Linked DNA regions of Homo sapiens: all the other regions are linked to region 3. A link means that fine-mapping ties the variant in region 3 to the plasma level of a protein whose gene starts in the linked region. Region 3 holds a variant in brackets. A gene starts in each other region. All regions are shown on their forward strands.

Region 1 (4,262 bases), not on the chromosome of region 3:
TTATTGAATGCCTATTTTGGAGCAAGGCTAGTGGGAAATGGAAAGAGACAAAGATGAAAAAGACATAATCTATGTCCTCCAGGAGTTTACAAGCTAATGAGAGAACCAGCCATGTAAATATGGACACAAAGTGGATTAGATGTTTATTATATAATATGGTCAAAGTGTGGTCCCCATGGGTCTCTGAGACCCTCTTGAAGGGTTGAAAGGTCAAAACTATTTTCATAATTATACTAAGACATTACCTGACTTTTCCAGAGGCTACAGGATGTATGCTAATGCCACTGCCCTGAATGCTAATGGAATGTATGCTTATGTATTCTTGAGCTTTAGAAAAAAATCCTCAGTCTTAATTTCTAATGCATAAATTGCAATAGCAATATCAATAGGTAAAACCTACACAGGCAAAAGTTCTTTGAGGTCCTTGGAAATTATTAAGAGTATACAAGGGTCCTGAGACCAAAAATTTGAGAACTGGTAAGATTTAATGCATCAACTACCATTACACAGTGTCCTTGTTTCTCATCAATGCATTTTATATAGCAATTATTTTATCTAATCCCATGAAACTCACTTTATTGGATGCTTTTGCCATATCCTTATTTTCTAGCATCGTAGCTATTAGGTCATCTAATTATTAATCTGTTTGTGTCTTTGGGTTTAAATGTGTCTTTTGAGGCCACACAATGTTGGACTTCATTTTTTAATGGAGCCAACAATCAGCAATTGTTAATGCATTTGCTTTGTGTTCTATTACTCTGCAGTTTATCTTACTCATTGTTATTTTTGCTTTCTTTAAATTTATGTTTTCTTAATGGACTTTAAAATTCTTTATTTATTTTTTATGTCAGACAATAAACATCCCTAGTCTGCCCATCTTTCTATCATTTCAACATCATCATATTTCCAAATAACTTTTCATTGTTTCCTATAATTTTACTATTAATAGTATAGGATTAAGAAAATAAACCTTATCTGGGTTCTGGCTGGCACTGCCTTCCCTCTAGGGATGAAAATGGAGTGTAGTCTGTAATATATCCTGGTATCATAAATATATTTATAAAATTATACAAATGTAGCTTGCAGTTCTAAAGGCATGTAATCTAATTTTTACTTGAATTTTATCTTTTTTCTCTTTTTGTCCTTCATAGACCTCGAGCTCTGTCTAGCCCTCAACTGTTCTCAAATCTCCATTGTTTTCTACAAGTGACCCTCACAGCTGTGGGCCTTTGTTGACAAATTGTTTCATCTCCTCTGGGTCTTAAATTATTTTCTCTTACTCTAAAGTGAAAATTTGATGAATGTTTCCAGATACTGCACTTGGAATCATAACTTAATTTCCCTTAACCTTGTGTAAATTCTGTCCCCCCACTACTCCCAACTCCTATCCCTCCTCCAAAGCACTGATACTTATTATCACATTTAAATTTTTTCCCCGCTCTACTGATAACTTACAGAATGCAGGACTGCATTGTGATGGGGTAATTTCCATGAGTTGATTGGTTGGTTTTGAGTTGAAAAACTTAACAATGATACATCTTAAATTCTTTCTTTGAGGATTATTCCTTAATGAATTCGTGCTACGGACATACTGAGGTGGTTATTTTTATATTTCCCTGATAATAAATTCTAAATTGCTAAGGGTTTCTTACCACCCTCGTCCTTTTACTGTTACTAGATCTATTTTTAGCTGGTGTGGGCGTCCCCAGCTAGTTTCACTTGCCTAATGCTAGTTCTTTTTTCTTCTACATCAGGTCGCCTCTTCCTAGCATCTTCTCCATGTTTCTTGTTGCTCTACAGCATTTACAAGACCCAGTTTAATAGTTTAGTGCCTTTTTTGTCACTCATTATTTCTTCTTTGTTCTCTGTTAAAATAATAAGTGTATGATCCATTGCACTTGCCTTAGAGTCTTGAACCAGTCTTGGATTTCCCGCCATCTGGGTTCTGGCTGGCTTGCAATTTCTCCTTTGATGTTGTAATACTTTTTCATTGAACTTGAGTGTGGGGCTTATAGAGCTTCTTTGCTTTCATTATTTTTTCCCAAAATGTGCACATTTTTTTTCTTAAGCTTATTTTGCTGTTTTGTGCTGTTATTTTTAATTGCTTCCCACTGGGTGGGGGGGTAGGGGGACTGAGAGTGAGATTTGGCTTGAGTTTGGCTCTCTTTGCTATTACTCACATTTCCCCCCAGAAGCCCTACATGCACTCCTCTCTCTCTGTCTTTGACAAATTACTTTTGAAAGATCATTGATCCCTGGCGTAAATGGTGTTAAGAGTAAGATGGACTCGGGTAGGGATGCTCAGGAATCCAGTCCTGTACAGTCATGAGCTTGGCCATCTGGAAGTCTCCTCTTGCTCAATGAAATGGAGTAAACATTGTCCATTATGAAATCCACCACACAGGCTGCCAGGGACGAATGGGATCCCACCCAAAGCCAATCGCTGCTCTGACAGGGAAATTGGCTAGCACTGCCTGAGACTACTCCAGCCTCCCCCGTCCCTGATGTCACAATTCAGAGGCTGCTGCCTGCTTAGGAGGTTGTAGAAAGCTCTGTAGGTTCTCTCTGTGTGTCCTACAGGAGTCTTCAGGCCAGCTCCCTGTCGGATGGCTTTTATGAAAAAATATCTCCTCCCCATTCTGGGGCTCTTCATGGCCTACTACTACTATTCTGCAAACGAGGAATTCAGACCAGGTAAGTACCCATGCGTCTCATTTTGGAGGAATAGGTTTAAAAAACACAGGGGTGCTTGAGTGTTCCTGAGGACCAAGATGTGTTCTTGATCCTCAAAGTTGGTGAAAATGAGGGAACCCTGAGTTAAGATGGTATTTTTGTGTCCTCCAGCTACAGGCTGTGGACAGGGGGGACTGTGTAGGAAGGGTAATCGTGTAGCCAAAATCTAGCCAAATAGGCCATGCTTTATTTGGCACCCTTAATGGAAAGCAGTTTCAAATCTTCTACAAAAATGAGAGTAATACCCAAATTCACAACTCAGCAGCTAATTGGGCTCTATGAAGAGACTGATAAGTGGGAGGCAAAAAAAAAAAAAAAAAAAACTGGAGATGATGACTACATAGAAGTGAGGGAAAATCCCTGGAATTTCTATGAACACATGTGTTTTGATTCCTTGTTAAATGTACTTTCAATTGAGCAAAATTGAAAGAGTCCAGAAATGTCTGGAACTCCAGCATTTTAGCTGAACCATGACTTTTCTGGCTTCATCCTATGATCTCTTTCCATGGAGGTTTTTAGAAATGACAGTAGGGAGGCTGTCAGCCCAAACCTCCCACTTCAGAGCATGTTTATGAAAGACCTGGCCTGTTCCCACAGTGATTTACGGAGTTTGTGACAAACTGATCTGGGCTCATAACCTTTAAGTTACAAATTGCGATAAGCATGCCTATATCCAGAGAGGGAGAAGGAATTTTGCTGCCAACTTGGGTATGGTCCTCACTTCCTTTTGGGGTTCCCCAGAGATGCTCCAAGGAAAGAAAGTGATTGTCACAGGGGCCAGCAAAGGGATCGGAAGAGAGATGGCTTATCATCTGGCGAAGATGGGAGCCCATGTGGTGGTGACAGCGAGGTCAAAAGAAACTCTACAGAAGGTGAGGGTTCTATGCTCGCAGATATGTGTACCGTCACATGCTCAGATGTGTTCTTATATATGCTCACATATACACAGAAGCTAGCATATCGCAGATCTATATACAGAGGCACATGCACACACACAGACACTTAATTTTGCACTCTCATATATAGATTCAAACACCAAAAAACCCACAGGAATATAAAAGTATGCATTTAAGCATTCATTCATGTGTGTGTGTGTAATATATTCTGCAACAGAGTCCTTGAGTTATATATGCTCACAGACATGCCTAGTCACACACATTTACACATGGAACTACAGATACATACGGATGTTTTCAAAAACTGAAATCCCAGTACCTGCTTATGAATACATATCCTCATACCCATGCAGACTCCCAGACACATGCCCTCTCATGGACTCACAAACCCAAGGATGTACAAACATTCACAAACCTAGAGCTACCCACATAGTAACCAGCATCTACACTCATAATGCCCTCAGAAATGCCTATTCACAGAAGCCATGAGCATAAATCATGAACTTAAACCCCAGCACTGGGATGATTTATCCATTTGAACCCCACCAAGTTCCAGAAAATATTTCAGACAGAGGACGATGATCATGAGGGTTATATTAGGCAACACACACACAAACATACTTACCATTTCTT
Region 2 (4,000 bases), not on the chromosome of region 3:
TTGTATGTTTGTATGTTTCTGTGAATATCACATTGCCATAATTACTATTGCCTTATTATAAATCCTCAAGTCAGTATAAGTCTCTCAACTTTGTTCATCTTTGTCAAGATTGCCCAGACAGGCCGGGCAGGTGGCTCACCCCTGTAATTTCAACACTTTGGGAGGCTGAAATGGGTGGATCACCTGAGGTCGAGAGTTCAAAACCAGCCTGACCAACACGGAGAAACCCTGTCTCTACTAAAAATACAAAAGTAGCCAGGCGTGATAGTGCATGCCTGTAATCCCAGCTACTCGGGCGGCTGAGGCAGGAGAATCGCTTGAACCCGGGAGGCGGAGGTTGCAGTGAGCCGAGATCGCGTCATTGCACTCACTCCAGCCTGGGCAAGAAGAGCAAAACTCCGTCTCTGTCCGGACAATCCTAGATTATTTGCATTTTCATATGAATTTTAGAAACAGCTTCTTAATTTCTTTGAAAAATTTTCCTGGGATTTGGATTGAATTGTATTAAATATATAGATTCTGTAATATATAGAGTCTAAAAATATACAGTGTGGAGAATAGATGTCTTAAGTCTTCCAATCCGTAAACGTGGTATATCCCTTTATTACTTAGATGTTTCATCTCTGTTAGCAATATTTTGTAGTTTTCACAGGAGATATCTCATATATTATCCAATGAATTTATACTTTGGTATTTTGATTTTTAAATGCTATGGTAAATGGCATTTTTAACAAACTTCACTTTTCAAGTTTCCATCTCTAATATATAGAATTGCTATTGATTTTTATATTCCATGATCTTGATAAACTTAATATTTCCAGTAGTTTTTTTTTTTGTAGATTTCAAAAGTTGGTCTACATATAATTATGCTCTCTGTTAAAACCAGTAGTTTTAATTCTTTCTTCTCAATCTTTATGCTTTCTAATTTTATTTTTATTTCTTCACTTGTTGCAAAGCAGTTGTCCCAGGTGGGAGCCAAAATCCTTATCTCATTACTAATCTTAGGAAAAAGTAAAATGTTTCACTATTATGAGGTCACCTGTAGGTTTCTTATAGATGTTCTTTATCAGATTAAGAAAGATCATTTCTACTCTCGGTTTTCTGATCGTTATTAATTCAGAAAGGGTGTTGAATTTTGCCAGATGCTTTTATTTGCATTTATTGAGATAATTACATATTTTTATTTATTATGTGGTGAATTATCTAAATTGGGTAAAAAGAATTAAAATCATTGTCCAATTGAACATTTTGCCTGTCGGCTATGGGTTTCCCTTTTCCTTTGGTTAAATAACAGTTCTGCCACAAAATAAAAATCTAGAAACACACATTCCCCTTTGGCCTCCTTAAAAAAAATTAAAACTTCAACAATTGCACCCCTCTCTATTACTTCCCTATAGTGAACTCCCATCCTTCTGGGAAAGCAAAAAGCCTGGGGCGCATTTGTGTACTTGAGACGCGGAGCCCCTCTCACCTTCGGCATCCCCCGGGGACCCCTCTTCCACCCTCAGCCCTCCCCTCCTCTTCCTCTGAAGAGCCGGGCGGCCGCTGCGGCCAGCGGTCCTCCCTCCTGGCATCCTCTGCTGTGAACCGCGGCCTGCAGGGTGCTTGCGAGCGGCCCGGGCGCGCCCCCTTCCGGCCCCGCAGGTCACCCGGCTACAGCCCGGGTTTTCCCGGGACCCGCGCCGCGCGGCTGGGCAGGAAGCGCCAGACGCCTGGGGCCCACGCCGTCCGCGGGAAAAGGGCAAGGCGCTGGGTTTTCCAGCAGCAACCTTTGGACCCCGCGATCCAGTAGCTCCGGTAACTCCACGCGGGGCGTCTGGGTGGAGGAGCCGGTCCTGGAGCACGGCTGCGAGGAGCACCCGGACCGGAGGGTCCCCAGACCGGGACCTCCGAGTCAGGGAGGATTCTACGCCAGGGAGCGCCCCAGACTGAGAGCGCCCCAGACCGCTACACTCCCGGACCCGGAGCTTCGCCCGACCGCGGGCAGTGCCCACCTGCAGCCTCCACCGGCCGGGGTTAGCAGCCAGGAGCTGCCAGACGCCTGACATTCTTCTTTCTGTTCCTACTTTTTTTCCTTCTTCTTCTTTTTTTTTTTTTTTGTAGCCCTCTCTGGGTGCCTTATCTCTTTAATCACACCTCTCTTTCACTTTCCACGGTAGTCAGGAGGCGGAGATCGCTGCTTCTCACCTACTTTCTGAACTTGGCCTCCGCAGTCGCGACCTGGCGTGAAGGAGGAGCTGCCGCCCCCGCCCCAGCCTCGGGGACGCCTCTCTGAAGGTAAGGGTGGGCTCCGCTGCCACCCGCATCCCCTCCCCACCCCCCAGAGGAAGGGAAGACCACCATCCGGGGAGGGATTCTCAAAACAAGATCAATTAAGAGAGAGAGAGAGATAGTGTGTGTGTGAATACGTGTGAATAATTGATGAGACAGCATCCTGTCTTTCTCTGAAAGTATAGTTTTAGAAATTAAGACATCCCCAATTATTTTCTGGAGAGGTGAGAACGACTGAAATAAATGATAACAATAGTTGTCATTTTTTAAGTGCTTACTGTGTGCCTGACACTGTAGAAAATTTTTAGATATCTTATTTTCACTTAATCCTCCTAAGGGCCACATGAAATAGGAACTATTATTATGCTTTAATAAAAGGGAGGAGGAATTCCGTCATTTACCCAAGAGTATCCAGCTACTAAGTAGTAGATCCCAGATCCACACCTACAGTTTTTCTGATTCCAGAGCCTTTGTCTTTTTTCTGCCCAGCCTTGGGAAGTTAAAATGCCCAGCACCTTGCATCGCAGTTATCAGACAAATTAATGAGGTGTCAATTGCAGCCAGATACAGAGATCCAAGATTATTGTATTCATTTCACTGACTTCCCTTGCTTCATTCTCAAGACCCTTTGCAAATACTGATTTTGTGTCATACACAGTGCTGCTATTGGGAGCACACCTCTCAACCTCAGGGCCTTGGATGGGCTAGGAGGGGTAAATTTGGGGAATTGGGTTTGTGCAGGTTCTGGGGACAGTGTTTTCCCTCTCCCTGCACAAATATACATCCAAAGGCTGAGAACTAAGGCTAAGGCCTAGGAATGTGGATTGAAAAGGCAGGGTCTAAATCCCAGCACTTGGGAGGCTGAGGTGGGCGGATCATGAGGTCAGGAGATCGAGACCATCCTGGCTAACATGGTGAAACCCCGTCTCTACTAAAAATACAGAAAATTAGCCAGGCATGGTGGCATGCATCTGTAATCCCAGCTACTCGGGAGGCTGAGGCAGGAGAATCCCTTGAACCTGGGAGGCAGAGGTTGCAGTGAGCAGAGATTGTGCCACTGCACTCCAGCCTGGGCGACAGAGTGAGACTCTATCTCAAAAAAAAAAAAGAAAAAAAAGAAAAGGCAGGGTCCCTGCCTTCAGGGACCTCACCAGAGAGTGGGAGCTAGTCCAGGAGTGATGGAAACACCTGCAGAGTGATGGAGACGGGCTTGGACATAGGCATGTGCCATTTGGGGCTGTTGCAGTTGGAGAGCTTCCTTGAGAAGGCAAATACTGAGCCAAGTTGAAAGGACTCTAGGGACCTGGCATCTGGGATAAGTGGGGAGGGTGGCCCAGGTAGCACAGGCATAGGCAGATTTGGGGGGAAGCATAAGGCTAACAACAGACACTTGTGTGACAAGGACTATGAGGTGGCATTGATTTTCTTGGCCTTACAGATGAGAAGCCAGATTCCACACAAATTATTTTGTTTGTTAGAGTTTAAGCGTGTGTGTGTGTGTGTATGTTATGCCCCAAGATCATTTTCTCCTCTTTGCATTTGGTTGTTTTATCATCTCACAGGCTGAGTAAAACGACTATGCATGGAACACTGTAGAAGAAAAATTATATTAAAAAAAAACTGGTGTTATGATTTTCATCCAGGCATTTTGTCTCAGGAGTTGCTCGATTGTATGTGTTGCTAATGAGTGATTTATATTGAGGCATCTACATTGATTCATGTGTGTCCT
Region 3 (4,000 bases):
CAATCTCAGCTCACTGCAACCTCTACCTCCCAGGTTCAAGTGATTCTCCTGTCTCAGCCTCCCGAGTAGCTGGGACTACAGGCACGTGCCACCATGCCTGGCTAATCTTTGTATTTTTAGTAGAGACTGGGTTTCACCATGTTGGCCAGGCTGGCCTCCTGACCTCAAGTGATCCGCCCGCCTTGGCCTCCCAAAGTGCTGGGATTACAAGTGTGAGCCACTGCGCCTGGCCAAGATCCTCATTTTCAAGAGATAAAATTAAAGGTTCTATATACAGTGAAGACTGTTCTATAACAGTCAAGATTAAAGGGGAAAAAACAGTATCGGCCCTTTACAGTACTGCATCTGTCCAAAGACCATAAGGGAGAAGATCCTGAAGAAATATATCAACAAAGCTAAGACTTTTTTCAATTATTCTTTTCTCACATTTTTTCTACTGATTTTTATTTAAGCTTATTGTATTTTGTCATGTTTTGTATTTAACATCTCACCAGGGCTCTGCTGTCTTTTGAATAATGGCAATTTATTCAGTGCATTTGTAACTATTTACAATTAAAATTATATTCCTCCATGTCATGCATATTTCTAATAATCAAACCAACCCCATGAGGTGGGTATTTTTAATCAGTTATCATTCCCTTCTCTCCCACTAGCTGGACACTTCTCAGACTCCTCTCTTCTTAGCTTTGTCTGCTCCCTACTGTCCTCTCCCACCTGCTAAAACAAGATTGTCAATGTTTTTGAAAGATTTCTAAACCTAGAGCCAAGGACAGCTTCAGCCTCTGGCTGGTTCTTACTTTCTGGCATCAGAGACATTTCAACCCTAAATCTGAAACCTTAAAAGGTTAGCAGCTCTAAACGCTGGCCATTACACACTTCTTTATCTCACACAAACCTGGTATCATTCTCCTTAAAATATTTTGCTCTAATGGATACTTTGCTCTAATGGATACTTTTCAAACTCTACGAATTGCTTGAGAAAGGGGAAATGTTAGATCTTTAGACCAATTATCATTGCCATGAGTTGTTTTGTCACTTGGGGTGAGTTCTCTATAATGTGGGACCAAGATGAGGTAGATATTTTATTATTCAATATTTGGTTCATTATTATTCAAGCTCAACTTGGAATTATACAAGATGGCATCATTCACCTCAGCATTCATTGAATATAACCACAACCCTGAGTTTTACAGAAAAGACTTAGAAAAGAGGCTGGGCGCGTAGCTCATGCCTGTAATCCTGGCACTTTGGGAGACTGAGACAGGTGGATTGCTTGAGTCCAAGGGTTCAAAACCAGCCTTGGCAACATGGCATAATCTCTTCTCTAATAAAAATATAAAAAATAGCTGGACATGGTGGTGCGTGCATGTAATCTCAGCTACTCAGAAGGCTGAGGTGAAAGGGTCACTTGAGCCCAGAAAGTAGAGGCTGCAATGAGATGTGATCGCAACACTGCACTTCAGCCTGGGTGACAGTGAGACCTTGTCTCAAAAAAAAAAAAAATTGGAAAGGAAAATGCAAGTGGGGACGCCATCTGCAGCTCACTGCTTCATATCATTGTTTCTCCCTCTCACCCCTCTTTTTAAAAACCCAGTGGCCAAATTCATCTGTGTTTTGTTTGTTTTTGTTTTGAGACGGAGTTTCGCTCTGTTGCCCAGGCTGGAGTGCAATGGCGCGATCTCGGCTCACTGCAACCTCCACCTCCCAGGTTCAAGTGATGCTCCTGCCTCAGCCTCCCAAGTAGCTGCGATTACAGGCACCCGGCACCACAGCAATTAATTTTTGTATTTTTAGTAGAGACAGACTTTCACCTTTTTGGCCAGGCTGCTCTCAAACTCGTGACCTCAGGTGATCCACCCGCCTCAGCCTCCCAAAGTGCTGGGATTACAGGCGTGACCCACCGCACCTGGCCTCATCTGGTTTTTGACAATCATTATAGAACAAAGGCTCTGATTATGATGACGGGCAAGTGGGAGTCCTAGCTAAACGTTCCAATGCAGACTTACCCTTGAAGC[A/C]TTTGGGGACTTCGATAGTGCCATCTATACACTGAGCATCCTCTGTATAGCTACACTTCTTTTCCTTATTTTTGCAGAAGAAAGAAACTTTATCACCATGTAGCATTCCATTCTTAAATTTTTCCTGAATCTTTACTCTCTCTCCTTGGTACACCACAGTGGCTTTTTTCACAGGTACTTTACAAGATGCTGAAAGAGAGAATACTTGTAATCAGGACTTAAGAGTTCAGGAAGTCTTTCTGAAAGAGAGTATAGCATTTGAAACAGTAGATGAGTACACCTACACAAATTGGTCAAGGCAAGAAAAATCCAAGAATATATATAGTAAGTAATGGTAATATGATTGCTAATTGCAGTTCTCTGTCAATAGAACCATTATTCATAGCTTCCAAGATGGCCTTCTCTTCCCCTACAGTAGCCACAGAAGGTCAGAACAGAAGCATCAGAGCCTCCATTTCAGTGAAAAAAAAAAAAAAAAGCAACTAACAGATATTGACATTTCATGTAAGCCTACTCTGCCCTCTCAGATTGCATTCATTAAGCAGGTGCATCTATCCACCAGCCATTGTGAGTGTTGGCTGATAACAGCTCATAAATACTCTGAAAAATTGCCTTCAGCCATAGGGAAGCCACCTCTCCCAGGAGTTTATGCAAACCACCCCCAGGGTCAGGGAAGGGAGCAGCTCAAAGCCAAAGACTGACTGATGAGGGAATATAAAAAGCAGGTCCCCTTGGCTCTTAGTGGGATTAACTCAAGGGTGGAATTCACACTCCAGAGCTCCCAGTGGGATCAAACTGAACCTCATTTTAGCAGAGACCACATTTCTCCCTGGCTCGGCAGCATTAGCATCACCAGGGAACCTGGCATAAATGCAAATTGTCAGGCCCCATCCCAGATCTACCAAATCAGAAACTCTAAGAGTGGAGCTCAAAAATCCTGTGTTAAAACAAGCCTTCCAGGTGTTGCTGATCCACAGCGAAGTTTGAGAACCGGTGCCTTACCCTCGCAAATCTGCCTCACTCTTTCTTCTCCTGAGACATTCACTAAATCAACTGTACTCGAATCCCCGTCTCAGGCTCTGCTTCTAGGGAACTGTAACCTAAGATGCTAGTTATTTGTCATCTTGCCTGCTGCCCCAGAGTTCCTCTTTCTGCTTAAACTGTCCAGCCCATAGTGACCTGAGCAGAGTTCTAATGCTAGGCTGTTGTTGTTCTTTACTTATGCATGACACTGATGGGATCAAGGGTAGACACCTAACTCAAAAGGAACCAGTGTCTCCAGGAAAGATGCCAGTTGGTGATGAATCCTGTAACTGAGAGGGTCTGGTGTATATCAAGCCATGTTCAAGATGAATAAGCAGAGAGACGGAAATGGGAGAGACCATTGAGATACGGAAAAAGTAGGAATAGTTCCTGCCTTTCAGTTCCAATCTTCAGGAGTATCAGTTGTATTTCATGTCTTCATCTTCAATGCCCACATGATCGACTTGCCTGTTGCCTCCTTATAATATCCCCAATTTCCTTGAACTCACTCGAATGTGTGGTTGGTTTTTGCAATGAGAAGAGCCTTGGCTAGACAGAGCACAAAAAGGGGTGGGCATGGTGGCTCACATCTGTAATCACTCGAACCTGGGAGGTGAAGGTTGCAGGGAACTGAGATTCTACCATTACACTCCAGCTAGGCAACAGAGTGAGACTCCATCTCAAAAAAAAAAAAAAAGACTCCATGTGTCTACAATAATACTAAAAAATGATGGATGGAAGAAAAGCTCTTCTCTACAGAGGCCGAGGCGGGCGGATCACCTGAGGTCAGGAGTTCGAAATTAGCCTGGCCAACGTGGCAAAGCCCCATCTCTATTAAAAATACAAAAATTAGCCAGGTGTGGTGGTGGGGTGCCTGTAATCCCAGCTACTCGGGAGGCTGAGGTAGGAGAATTGCTTGAACCCGGGAGGCAGAGGTGGCAGTGAGCCGAGATCACGCCATT
Region 4 (4,247 bases), not on the chromosome of region 3:
TAGACATTATGTGATTGACAGAGTCGACTCAGCAAACCCGGTTGGTCCACTCTAGCACCTGATTTTACATGCACCCGTTTCCCCATCAATACATTTAAGAGCTTCAATTCCTTCCCTCCCTGACCCCTTCCTCATCACGACTGATTTCCTTTTATGGAGAAATCTGAAACAGTAACCCAACAGATATTTTTAAAGCAGGGCCTCAGACCCCACAGTGGGAAACCCAGGCTATATTCCTTAAATGATTGCGCCATCTTCATCTTACAACCCCAAAGGTGCCTATTGTCAAGCCCAAGGAAGATGCTGCCCACACGTGGGAGAGGGGCCCATGGGGTCAGGGGGAACGAAAGGCTCACTCAAGGTCAAAGGCTCCTTCATGAAGCGCAGGGCTGAGGGGAGAGGAGGGGTCAAGGAGACAGCAGACAAGGGACAGTAGTCCAGATTCTTGGGCAGAACGGGACACACAGAGGCTCAAGTCCTGGCTCTGGCACTGACTTTAGGGCAAGGGAGTTATGCGTCCTACATGAGCCTCAGTTTACTCCTCTGTGAAATGGGTGCATAACTGTATCTGCCTCCGGGGGCCACTGTGACAGTCCAGAGAGATAAGATAGACTAGGCTGTGGCGTGCGGTGATACCAATTACAATAAATAGGGTAAAAAACCGCCACTACTTCTGCTACAATTGCTGCTGTTGCTAAGGCTTTAGAATTTGCCTCCGGACATCTGGAAACAGAACCCAAAAGGGTAAACATGGACCTAGAGTCCGGGGTGGCCACGGGCCTAGATCCAAGGTAGTTGGGTAGAGGGGGGCTCTGCAGTCCCTGACCCCAGGCAGCGTCACCCACCGGTGAGGCACTCAGGGCGCTTGGCTCTACCTACACCATATGCGCTCGGGGGACTTGGCTGTTCGGGGCTGTCCAGACCCAGTGACCCCACTTCCCGGCCGCGACCCAAAGATGACGCGTGTCGTGTCTCCGGAGCGACTTGGGCTCGGAGGGGCCGGGGCACGGGTCGGAGGCGCGCTCCAGAGAGGAGCCCGCGGCGGGGCGGGCACCGGGGCAAGGTTCCTCGGGCTCAGGTCGGGCACGCAGGGCGCGGAGGCGCGAGCCCGGGCGGGCAAAGGCCAAGGTCAGAGGCTTCCCGCTCCCCCTACGCGATGCAGGAGCTACCGTCCTGGCCACCGCCCCCCGCCCCTGGGGAGGGTTCTCAGTCCACAAGCGGGGGCTCGATTTTGGCTTGGGTGGGGTCCTCTCCCCATCGCGGCGCTCCCCGCCCACGCCCGCGCCCCCAGACTCACCCTCTCCGGGGTACAGGTGGCCCGCGGCGCCCAGTAGCAGCGCGGCCACCGCCACCAGCAGCGGCGCGGCCGCCGCCCCCCGCCGGCCCCCGGTGGCCATGGCTGCGGGAGCGCGGGGTCTCCTCGGATCAGAGCGCGCGGCGCTGGCCCGCGGGGGTCATGCTCCGAGGCGGCCACCCAAGAGGCGCTGGGGGCCGCGCGTCCTTCTCTTCCACGCCCGCGACCCGCGGGCCGCAGCCCCCCTGCCGGGGAGGGCCCAGAGGCAGCCCCGGGAAGGGCGCGCGCGGCTTCGCCAGCTACAAATACTGAGCGGAGGCCCTTGCGGTGGTGGCCCCGACCCCCCGGCCGCTGCGGCCCGGGCCCCGTCCCAGGATCTCGGGGCCCGGAGCTCCGCGCTGCGCCCGGGACTGTCTCTCGGCTCTCGGCCCCGCGCGCTCTGGGTCGCGATCTGCGGGCTCCGGGACAGAGGGACGCGCGGACCGACGGACTAGCTGACTGGCGGGCGGGCACCTGGGCTGGCGGGTGGCGGGCGGGCGGCGGGAGAGAGGGCTGCTCGGGCCCGTAAACAACGCGGCCCGTCAGCTGGGCCCCGTGCGGGCCGCGGGAAAAGGCGGCGCGGATCTGGCCTAGGAAGGGACTCTGCGCCCGGGAGAGGCCCAGGAGAGGGAGGGAAAGCTTGCAGGGGAGGGAGGTGCCGCCCGGCCCCGCCCCGCCCCGCCCGCCTCCCCGCCTCCCTGTGCCGGGCCCCGCGCGGGAGGCCCTGGGCGCGCCGGGACCGAGGGCGCGCCCCAGATCCGCGCGCCCTACAGCCCCGAGTCTCCTCCAGTTTCAGACCCCCGGAGGCGCCCCACAGGCCCGACGCAGCGGCACAGATCCTTTCTCTACCATTTTGCTATTTTGTTCATAGTGGGCTTTGGAGGATTCCTGTTGATTTTTTAAAAAATACTGCATTAAAATGTTTATTTTGGTGACTCGAGGTGGTTTTGGTTTCTTTCTTTTTTTTTTTTTTTCACTCCCTTAAATTTTGCACCCCAGGCGAGTAGTGTCTCACTCGCCTTTCCTCAGTCCGGGCCTGGCCAGCGACACTCGTCCCAGAGCGCGTGGGCGCCCCCAGATGTCCCGCCCGCGAGTGCGCCCCGGCCCAGGGGCGAGACCCAAGCCAGGCCCCTGGGGACAGCCACGTGCCCGCGTGCCCAGTGCGCTCCCTGTGTTCAAGTTGGAGAAATGACACCTGGAAAAATGTGCAGACGCTTCTGAAAGGGCAAAGACGACGCCAAAGAAGACGCCGGAGACCTCGAATAGGGCGCAGGTGGACATCTCTGATTTTCAGCAGACCAGCCTGTATGTGTCTGAAGTCTAGCAACGACATTCACCAACAAGGCGGGACAGCGGTTCCACCTACCTTACTGCAGGAGAGGAAGGGGCTTTCAGTATAGGAAAGCCAGAACTCAATGGGAGGAGGGTTCCTCCACCCCTCACTCCTGTGTGGTCTTGGACCAGGGACTTTTCTGTCTCTGGGCCAGTTTCACTTGTGTAATGGGTTTAATAATACCTGCATGCCAGTTCTGGGGAGGTACCCGGGAAAGAAAACTTAAGAAAGCGCCCAGCACAACCCTAGACCCAAGGCATTCATTCTTCTTTCATTCAATAAACAGTTTGCTAGGAGCTGGACCCACTGTTCATGCAACAGGCCAAACCTATTCCTGCCTCTGGGCCTTTGCCCCAGCATTTCCCTTGCCCGTAACACTCCAGGATGGCTTCATCTCTGAAGTGCCATCCCTAACCATATTTTTGCAAATCCTCCCCCCAGTTCCGTTTCCTTCTCTCTCTCTCTCTCTCTGTTTTTTTTTTTTTTTTTTTTTTTTTTTTTTTTTTTTTTTTTTTAGATGGAGTTTTTCTCTGTTGCCCAGGCTGGAGTGCAATGGCCAGATCTCAGTTCACTGCAACATCACCTGCCTGGGTTCAAGTGATTCTCCTGCCTCAACCTCCCAAGTAACTTGGATTACAGGCATGCGCCAGCACACCCAGCTAATTTTCTGTATTTTTAGTAGAGACAGGATTTCACCATGTTGGCCTGGCCGGTCTCAAACTCCTGACCTCAGGTGATCCACCGGCCTTGGCCTCCCAAAGTGCTGGGATTACAGGCCTGAGCCACTGCGCCTGGCCCCTTCTCTCTCATTTTCATAGCATGTTTACCCCACTACCTGCAATTGTTTGTTTTTTTTTTTTCTTTTCTTTCTTTTTTTTTCCTTTTGACAGAATCTTGCTGTCACCCAGGCAGGAATGCAGTGGTGCAATCCTAGCTTACTGCAGCCTTGAACTCCTGGCCTCAAGCAATCCTCCTGCCTTGGCCTCCCAAGGTGCTAGGATTACAGGCATGCGCCACCATGATTGGCCTTGAAATTCTTATTCGTTTTCTGTGTCTTCTCCCCTTCCCGTGAAGGCGGAAATCTTTTCGGTCTTGTTTCACTGCTTAAACCCAGTGCCTGACAAATCTGTTGCTTAATAAATATTTGTTGAGTGGGAGAATCAACAAGCAATAAGTAATAGGGGATTTTTCAGTGAGCAAAATAAACATGACCCATTTCCTTATGGAGTTCACAACTGAGCCAGGGAGAGAGCCCTTAAAATAATTGAGTGTGTAATGAGCTGAGGGAAATGGGAGGTGCATAGGGAGGGGTTTGCTGAGGACATGGGGTTTTTTGTTTGTTTGTTTTTTGATGGATCTTACTCTGTTGCCCAGGCTGGAGTGCAGTGGCACGATCTTGGCTCACTGCAACCTCCGCCTCCCAGGTTCAAGCAATTCTCCTGCCTCAGCCTCCAGAGTAGCTGGGATTACAGGTGCATGCCACCACGCCTGCCTAATTTTTGTATTTTTAGTAGAGGCAGGGTTTCACCATATTGGACAGGCTGGTCTTGAACTCCTGACCTCAAGAGATCTGCCTGTCTC

Which allele goes with the higher level. Alleles are on the strand shown, and positions count from the first base shown. The strength of an association depends on the size of the effect and on how common the allele is.
As copies of C replace A in region 3, the plasma level of the protein whose gene starts at base 2,510 in region 1 goes up (moderate association).
For the plasma level of the protein whose gene starts at base 1,673 in region 2, C is the high allele of the variant in region 3 and A is the other (moderate association).
With allele A in place of C in region 3, the plasma level of the protein whose gene starts at base 1,920 in region 4 is lower (weak association).

What was found. A credible set is the group of variants that fine-mapping cannot tell apart. PIP is the posterior inclusion probability: the model's chance that the variant is causal. The UK Biobank Pharma Proteomics Project read protein levels with antibody pairs (Olink). The fine-mapping took linkage between variants from a reference panel, not from the people measured, so its PIPs are less certain.
Region 1: it holds the start of HSD11B1, and the variant in region 3 is the best candidate, but not a certain one, in a credible set for the plasma level of the HSD11B1 protein (UK Biobank, PIP 0.90).
Region 2: IL18R1 starts here. The variant in region 3 is the best candidate, but not a certain one, in a credible set for the plasma level of the IL18R1 protein (UK Biobank, PIP 0.59).
Region 4: INSR starts here. The variant in region 3 is the best candidate, but not a certain one, in a credible set for the plasma level of the INSR protein (UK Biobank, PIP 0.53).

Annotation. Positions count from the first base shown.
Region 1 is chr1:209,702,337-209,706,598 of GRCh38, forward strand. HSD11B1 (hydroxysteroid 11-beta dehydrogenase 1) reads left to right here and starts at 2,510. Exons shown (of 6, transcript NM_005525.4): 1 at 2,510-2,694; 2 at 3,475-3,605. The coding sequence starts at 2,607. The region is part of intron 1 of HSD11B1-AS1 (HSD11B1 antisense RNA 1); the gene reads right to left.
Region 2 is chr2:102,354,124-102,358,123 of GRCh38, forward strand. IL18R1 (interleukin 18 receptor 1) reads left to right here and starts at 1,673. Exons shown (of 11, transcript NM_003855.5): 1 at 1,673-2,277. RefSeq lists an enhancer at 1,442-1,943 and silencers at 1,538-1,647, 1,668-1,727.
Region 3 is chr17:66,212,447-66,216,446 of GRCh38, forward strand. It overlaps APOH (apolipoprotein H), which reads right to left. Exons shown (of 8, transcript NM_000042.3): 7 at 2,007-2,204. Among named protein-coding and RNA genes, the nearest start is that of APOH, 15 kb to the right of the region's middle. The variant A/C (reference allele first, on the strand shown) is at 2,016.
Region 4 is chr19:7,292,495-7,296,741 of GRCh38, forward strand. It overlaps INSR (insulin receptor), which reads right to left and starts at 1,920. Exons shown (of 22, transcript NM_000208.4): 1 at 1,298-1,920. The coding sequence starts at 1,397. RefSeq lists an enhancer at 362-1,120 and silencers at 1,102-1,161, 1,212-1,351, 1,492-1,771, 1,792-2,181, 2,322-2,501.